Linked DNA regions of Homo sapiens. The protein of the gene in region 2 interacts with the protein of the main gene of each other region in a pairwise test. Each region holds a gene or a part of one and is shown on either strand. Other genes may lie near its edges.

The links. Proteins that work in one complex are often made in the same cells at the same time.
Region 1: the proteins of PCDHA2 (region 2) and HCN1 interact in binary tests that used the Homo sapiens proteins (3 or more experiments, as listed by UniProt).

The regions. Positions count from the first base shown.
Region 1 is NC_000005.10:45,647,708-45,651,459, forward strand, and holds part of HCN1 (potassium/sodium hyperpolarization-activated cyclic nucleotide-gated channel 1), read right to left. Parts: intron 1-3,752. UniProt on the Homo sapiens protein: Hyperpolarization-activated ion channel that are permeable to sodium and potassium ions. Displays lower selectivity for K(+) over Na(+) ions.
Region 2 is NC_000005.10:140,979,794-140,983,545, reverse strand, and holds part of PCDHA2 (protocadherin alpha-2 isoform 1 precursor), read right to left. Parts: intron 1,072-3,752; coding exon 983-1,071; intron 1-982. Other genes in the region: PCDHAC2 (protocadherin alpha-C2 isoform 1 precursor), read right to left, coding at 983-1,071; PCDHAC1 (protocadherin alpha-C1 isoform 1 precursor), read right to left, coding at 983-1,071; PCDHA13 (protocadherin alpha-13 isoform 1 precursor), read right to left, coding at 983-1,071; PCDHA12 (protocadherin alpha-12 isoform 1 precursor), read right to left, coding at 983-1,071; PCDHA11 (protocadherin alpha-11 isoform 1 precursor), read right to left, coding at 983-1,071; PCDHA10 (protocadherin alpha-10 isoform 1 precursor), read right to left, coding at 983-1,071; PCDHA9 (protocadherin alpha-9 isoform 1 precursor), read right to left, coding at 983-1,071; PCDHA8 (protocadherin alpha-8 isoform 1 precursor), read right to left, coding at 983-1,071; PCDHA7 (protocadherin alpha-7 isoform 1 precursor), read right to left, coding at 983-1,071; PCDHA6 (protocadherin alpha-6 isoform 1 precursor), read right to left, coding at 983-1,071; and 4 more. UniProt on the Homo sapiens protein: Potential calcium-dependent cell-adhesion protein. May be involved in the establishment and maintenance of specific neuronal connections in the brain.

The DNA of each region.
Region 1 (3,752 bases), about 95 Mb from region 2:
AACTCATAATCTCCTCTCCCACATATATTCCTCACATATCCCCTATCTCAGGGAATGGAATAACTCTATGTGTGATTTGCAAGCCAGAAACCATGGAGCCATCCTAAATAACTCCTGGCCCTAAATCTGCTCAAACCCATATCCAATTGATCACCAAGGCTGTTTAGTTCTCACACCTAAATGTATGTTGTATTCATCCATTTGCACTTTACTATTCCCACTGCAGCTGTCCTCATTCAGAAAGTCTTACCAGCTGTTTTATTTAAATACAAGCCAATTAAATGATTTTATTTTACATTTTCTAACCTGTTCAAAGAAGATTATTACAGAGCCAAATATACAGGGTTTTATGGATTAAACGAGACGATATATGCTAATCCCAGGGCCTGGCATATAATTGTGGCACACAATGCCAGTGGCCTAGTCACTACCCATTTACCCTTCCTCACTTACCACAAGAAATCCAATTTTGTGGGAAGCACCCAGCAACCTAATGAAAAATACTCATTTCTACAGACATCTTTGCATTTCTGTAATTAAGATAGAAGCTTTTTTTGAAGGAAAACTAATATCCCATCCCTCAGAGCAATAGAGATGAAAAGAAAGCACCATTCATTCTTTACTACAGTAATAATGCTTATCACACTATAGCTTTTTGCTAGCAATACTTAATATGGTCTGAAGCCATTAGATATCTCAATACCAGTAGGAAACTCTGTTAAACCCCATAATATCCTTTTAAAGTAACATCGACTCTATTTTGCAGACAAAACCACAGGTGCTTTTATATGCTTACATAATATTGTCTTTAGTTAGCATGGATTCATTCCTTAGGTAACAAAAAAATACAATCATCACCTGTTCTAGAAGTGCAATATACCTTCTTTAAAAAAAGTAAATGGGTTCTTAAAAATTGACCTCATGAAAATCTCTTACCTAATTGCCCATGAGTCTTTCTTTCTAGCTCTTTACTCTCAAAATTTCTCTTAGATACCCAAGCTCCTTCTTTACCTTAACTCTCAGTTTCTATGTCTTGCACATTTTATTACCATATCATCTTTCCTATCTATCCCCTCCTTCCATTCTTATTTCTCTGGTCTGGGCAGAGCCACCTTCTGCTTGAAATTCCTCATGAGTCTCCTGCCTCTTCTCTCTAATCAAGTCCCACCACTCCCAAAGCAACTTACCTAACAATCAATTTGCTAGGTCAACAACCAGCACTGACTCTCTCAATTAAACGAAAACAACTTAGTCTGTTTGTCAAGGCACTCCAGGATATGGCCTCCTCCTGCCTTTCCATCCCCCTCTTTTAACAACTGAGGACAAGCATCCCATATCTCAGGCAAGAGGGCACTTGCTCATGCTTTGCCCTCATGCCTACCTGGGTACACATACAGGAGATATGATTACTTCCATTCCAGCTATCTTTCTACCTAACAGCCCTCAAATCCCCTCAAATCCCTTTCTACTTCTCCCTCAAATCCCATTCTGGCAATGAGTTTCTTAGTTTGTTTGTGTGTGAGTGTGTGTTTTATTTTTGTTTTAGTAGACTTTATTTTTAGAGTAGTTTTAGGTTCATGGAAAACTTTAACTGAGTGTACAGAGATTTCTTATATACCTCCTGCCCCTACACATATATAGTCCCTCCCCATTATCAACATCCCCCACCATAAAAAAAAAATTGTTACAAATGATGAACCTACACTGACATCTCATTATCAACCAGAGCCCACAGTTTACATTAGGATTCACTGTTGGTGTACATTCTATGGTTTGGGCAAATACATAGAGACATGTATATACACCAGTAGTTTCACTGCCCTAAAAATCACATGTGCTTTTCCTATTCATCCTTCTTTCACCTCATTTGTTAGTTTTTTTTTTTACAACCCTCAGAGCAGCATATATTCTCAACATGTTTCCTATTTTTGATTCTGTTACTATTTGTATGTGTTTCTTCCATCATTACTGATTCAAGTTATTTAAAGTTCAAAACTGTATCTTGTCTTCTATATATTTTCTGCTATAAGATAGATAGCATCTAAGATAGCAAATGTTAAGAATATTTATTAATTGGATTTTTAATGAAAACATACACTTTAATGGGGGATATTTAAAGAAAACCTTTTATAATAAGCCAAAGAGCCATTAACAAAGTAAATAATAATTTCTTATTTGTCTTGCATATAGATCTGGATTTTACTTATTAAGGGTTTTCATTTTTACAACAGAATATGTTAAAATAAATAAAATAGGAAACAAAGAGGTTAGAAATATGCTCTTAGGTTAGATATCTAAAAAACAAAAGAGTTGTGTATTTGAGATGTTTTTACATATCATATATCTACCTACTTCTATTCATCCTGCCCCAGAGAAAAAGTATTTGTAAAAGAACTTGCTTGGACTTTGAAGGCAGACCAGAGTTAAAATCCTAGCTCCACTAACTGGATGATTTGGAGCAAGATATTTAGCTGCCATAAACTTTCATTTTTTTCTACTACTCTTAGAGTTACTCTGTGTGAGGACTACATGCAATAGTGTATGCAAAGTGTAGCATATAGAACCTGTATGAAGAGAAGCCACGACACAAAAATGATAGCTTCGGAATTCTATCTTACACTGGAATCTCTGTGGTATCCTGAATAAGGTGCCAGTTCTCCACAAAGCCTAACGTCAACAATGATAGGACTCTTTACTTATTTCTCCTTCCTTATAATAAAACCCCATCAACTGAAGGGGATGGAGAAAGAAACTGTTACGTAGAAACTTCCTTTCTCTGAAATACCAGCAAAGCAGAGAGGACACTCACTGGAAAACTAATGATCTTTATAATTACAGCAAAATCATAATCTAGGTAACTATTTTACCTTTTTCACTGGAAATATATAGAATAGGCTAAATAAAATATTATCACTAATAAGTATAATATTAACTACTAATAAAATAATTTTCATAGGCCACTTATTTTTTATGTAGAGTGTATCTTCTCCCTATAGGTTTCTAGAAGAGATAAAGTGGCGTTGTAAAGATTAGTCCATGATACTAAATCAAGAAGAATTTCAAATTCAGTCATACTTTTTTTTCTCTACCCACATGCAACCCTTTAAGGCTTGTGGTAAGGAGAACTCCTCCTTGTTCCTAACAAGAACTTCCCACTCTTCTTAAGGTTTCCCAGCCCCAGTTGCTTACGTTATCTTCTCTACTTGAAACAGCCTGATGTCAGACATTTCTAACCTAAAGCTTTAATGAGATTTAAATAATCGTCATACTTTACTACTACTAAAGGTGCTTGTATTTACAATATTTTCTCTAAATATTGAATGAAAAATTCTTTTCTCCCCTCTCTGTGATGAAATAAATATTTGTCATTGAGCAGAATTGAATAAAAATATTTATGGTTAATTTCCTGACACGGTACCAGATTTACAGTCGCTCCTATTTTATCTACAGTTGAAGTCAAATAATGTCATAAATCTGTCCCCTCAACTCACACTTAAGATTCACTTCTAAAAGAAAGAAATAGAATTCCCAAAAGATAAATGCTTTTGATAACTTCTCATGAAATATAGCACCTCTTTGGCTGATATACAGCCATAGTGTGCTGCTTCTGTGATCTGTTACTGGTTTCAAAATTAGTGGTATTCTGGGAGACTAATTAACATCATTAGCCACAATATAAAAGTTTGGACCATTGCATTTAGAAGAATGGCCTCTTGATATCAATTATTTTATAAATATGAAACATGAATTGA
Region 2 (3,752 bases):
AATGAGACCACACATACAATGTACTTGGCACAGTGTCTAGGCATATTATGGCTTAATAATTAGTAACTACTATTATCATCATGATGTTCTATTAATAGAGGATTAGAGTAGACACAATTTGTGGTCTCTACCAACACTTAATCTTCCCTTTCTGAAAACTGCCACAGCGATGGGCCTCCAAAGCCATATTTCTATTACATGACCCTGCTTTAGTGATAGGGCAAGAATAAGGATACCAAGCAAATGTGAGTTTAAGCAATTTTCCTATACTCACCCAGCCATTAGGTTTTTTACACAACTTAGCAGGTTCTCTTTCCTGAAAGTTTGGATTAGGAAATAGTCCCTATTATCCCTCTAAACTAAGAAATTGTGAGGCGGTCATGTTTGGCAACATGCATGCCAAGGCACTAAAAGTCAGTCTGCAGAATGTTGTTGATGTGCAGAGAGAAGCAGATTGACTTTGACTTGAACTCAAAACAATGCCTTGGTTCCGATAATTTTCCACTTCCATGAGAAACCATCTTCCTTCCTTCCTTCCTTTTTCTTTCTTTCCTTCTTTTTCTCTTTCTTTCCTTACTACTTTGGGTGGGTTTCCATAGTCTTCAACCAAAAGATCTTTGTTAACAGTGTCATCTCTGTGCATAAGGCCACCAGATCTTCTCTGCATGGCTTGGATGACCTAAGCATTTGAAAGGTACCTGATTTAAACAAACAAACAAACCCCAAAAACTTCATACACACACACACACATGCACACATGCGTGCACACACACTTTCCTTGTTATCCTTTTTCAACTCCTGAAGAGCATTAGGTATAAAATCAAAATAATCATATATGTAAGGAAATCATGTATGTATGGAAAAAAGGGAATAACAAAAATATAAAAGAAAAAGAGCCATCAACATTCCTGATCTTACAAAAGTAGGTCATCTGATCACTTTCCAGAAACCAAGAAAGAATGGAGAGACCCCAGCTCTTTACCTGGTGTTGCACTGGATACTGTTGGCCACTGCTGATCAGGCCCTCCTGGACCAGCCCGTAGAATGCCAGCCTCCTCTAGGTGCACAGAGCTGAATAAACACACAGACCCAGATAACGGTTAGATCATAAATTCTTTCCCATCTCTTCTTCCACCCTCAGAAATTGCTTACAACTATGAAGCCAGGGCTGCAGCTAACACATTCTGCTCATGCTTGAACTGAAGCAATTACTGCTGAGCAGTCACCCTGCATAAACTGCAGAAGCATTGCTGACTTACTTATTGCCTGCTATACTATTCCAGGAACACACATGTTCTATCTTTATGGCAATTCTGTTTTTTATTAACGCCATGTGGCGCTCACTAAATCTAACAGGAAGCCCATCAGAGGACTAAGCCATTTTAACATCTCGATACTGAAGCAGATGAGGAGGGCTTGTTCTCAAAAGTTCCAAGCCTCTCTTGCAGGTTCTCTTGTTCCTAGGTTCTCTACTCTAAAGAAGAAAACACACTAAAATATTTTCTGATAATTGGAGTATTGTTCCAATTTGGCTATCTAATTAATTCTTAACCTTATTTTCTATTTTACTCTTTCTATATCTTTTATGCATAGATGACCCACCCTATATTTCCTGAGACTAGAGAAACTTGATCACCACCACTCACAGATCCCCGCTCAGAAGAGATTAATTCAGCATAAAACATTGCTGGGAGTGAGATACAAACTGGGAGACCTTTAGAGGCAAGCAGAGATAGAACATAAACTGTTCAAGGGAAAAGAGAACATGGTGCAGTATTCATTTATGTATGTCTAATACTAACTCATATTAATCTCTCAAATATTTGTTGGATGAATGAATGAATGAATGAATGAATGATGGAAGGGAGGAAGGAAGAAAGGAAGGAAGAAATAAGTGGGATCCTAAGAGAAAATGTCCAAGAAAACCCTCATCAAAATTAGAGGAACATTTTGTTTTATTTTATTTATTTTTGAGACAAAGCCTCACTCTGTCACTCAGGCTGGAGTACAGTGGCACGATCTCAGCTCACTGCAACCTCTGCCTCCCAGGTTCAAGCAATTCTCCTGCCTCAGCCTCCCAAGTAGCTGGGACTACAGGCACCCGCCACCATGCCTGGCTCATTTTTGTATTTTTAGTAGAGACAGGTTTTCACCATATTGACCAGGCTGGTCTTGAACTCCTGACCTCAAGTGATCCACCTGCCTCACCCTCCCAAAGTGCTGGGATTACAGGCATGAGCCACTACACCTAGACTAGAGGACCCTTTTAAACTAGACATTTGCTTATCTTGAAAGTTAAATTTCTAAAATAAAATTTAGACTACTGACTAAAGGGGTTATATGAGGCAACAGAGCAGGCAAACTTGAACTATTAGAGGGAAGGCAACATATAAGTTCAATGTTTTCTCACTCTTTGACTTCAAACAACATATCCAGTAGAAATTCACTCATTAAACTCTGACCTTTTACTATTCTTCCCCTTGTCTACACTCTAGAATTATCTGTTTTTTTTCCCCAAATATTAACAGCCTTCAAGTGTTCCTGGATCCTACTAGCAAATTGTGTGGGCTCAGTCAGATTCATGAAGGTGTAACTATCCTGGAGCCAGCTCAGCTCAAAGCAGAATTTTTTAAAGAATAGTTACATGATGTCCAAGACTGGAAAGACCGAGAACACCCAAGCACACATACGAAAAAGATTAGTATTATTTAGGTTCACAACTCATTTAATATGTTCAATGTATTACAATGCAAAAAAGAAATGGCATTTTAATTTCAATTTTTATTTTATTTCTTACCCTACTCAAATCTCATAATATCTTAATTGAAACCCGAATAGGAGCACATTTGGCTTTTTTTTTTCAATTTGAAAATGGGATAAGGAAGTTATGTTATTTTATTCATTTATTTATTCTTCTGAGACAGAGTCTCGCACTGTCGCCAGGCTGGAGTGCAGTGGCTCGATCTTGGCTCACTGCAACTTCCGCCTCCCGGGTTCAAGCGATTCTCCTGCCTCAGCCTCCCTAGTAGCTGGAACTACAGGCACATGCCATCACGCCCAGCTAATTTTTGTATTTTTAGTAGAGACAGGGTTTCACCGTGTTGTCCAGGATGGTCTCGATCTCTTGACCTCATGATCTGCCCACCTCGGCCTCCCAAAGTGCTGGGATTACAGGTGTGAGCCACCGCGCCCAGTCCAGGAAGTTATGTTTTAATGTTTTATTTCAAATGTAGTTTTTAAGGCACAACTCATAGCTTTGGTACTTTTCAAGAGTTGGTACTGTAAACCATGCTTTTACCCATTGCATGTCTCCACCAACAGCTCAGATGCAGGCAAAAGCACAAGTTGGTCTCTAATAAATATAAAGAATTTCTTCTGATACCTAATATTCTGGTATATGCATGAATGTTTCTGGCCTAAAATTATGACCCAGGTTCCAATGTGACATCTTACCAAGCCAACTACTAATCTTCAGCCCTTCACTGATTGCTTCTGAATCAGAAATAGCACCCAATGTAATGATTTCTGCTCATTTGTAATGCTTGAGAGTATGTTAATTTATTTCAATCTAATGCATTTTAATGGGCTAAAACTAATTTCACATTAACTCTACACATACTTTGTAGGCTTTCTCTTTACGAACTGATCTAAGTTTGGTGAATATTCACTTGATAGTTGCCCAGATATTTTGAGGGGCTTAAGTTTGAAGATTATTTCTTCTTTAAAATTAAATCCTTTTGATAGTTGTGATC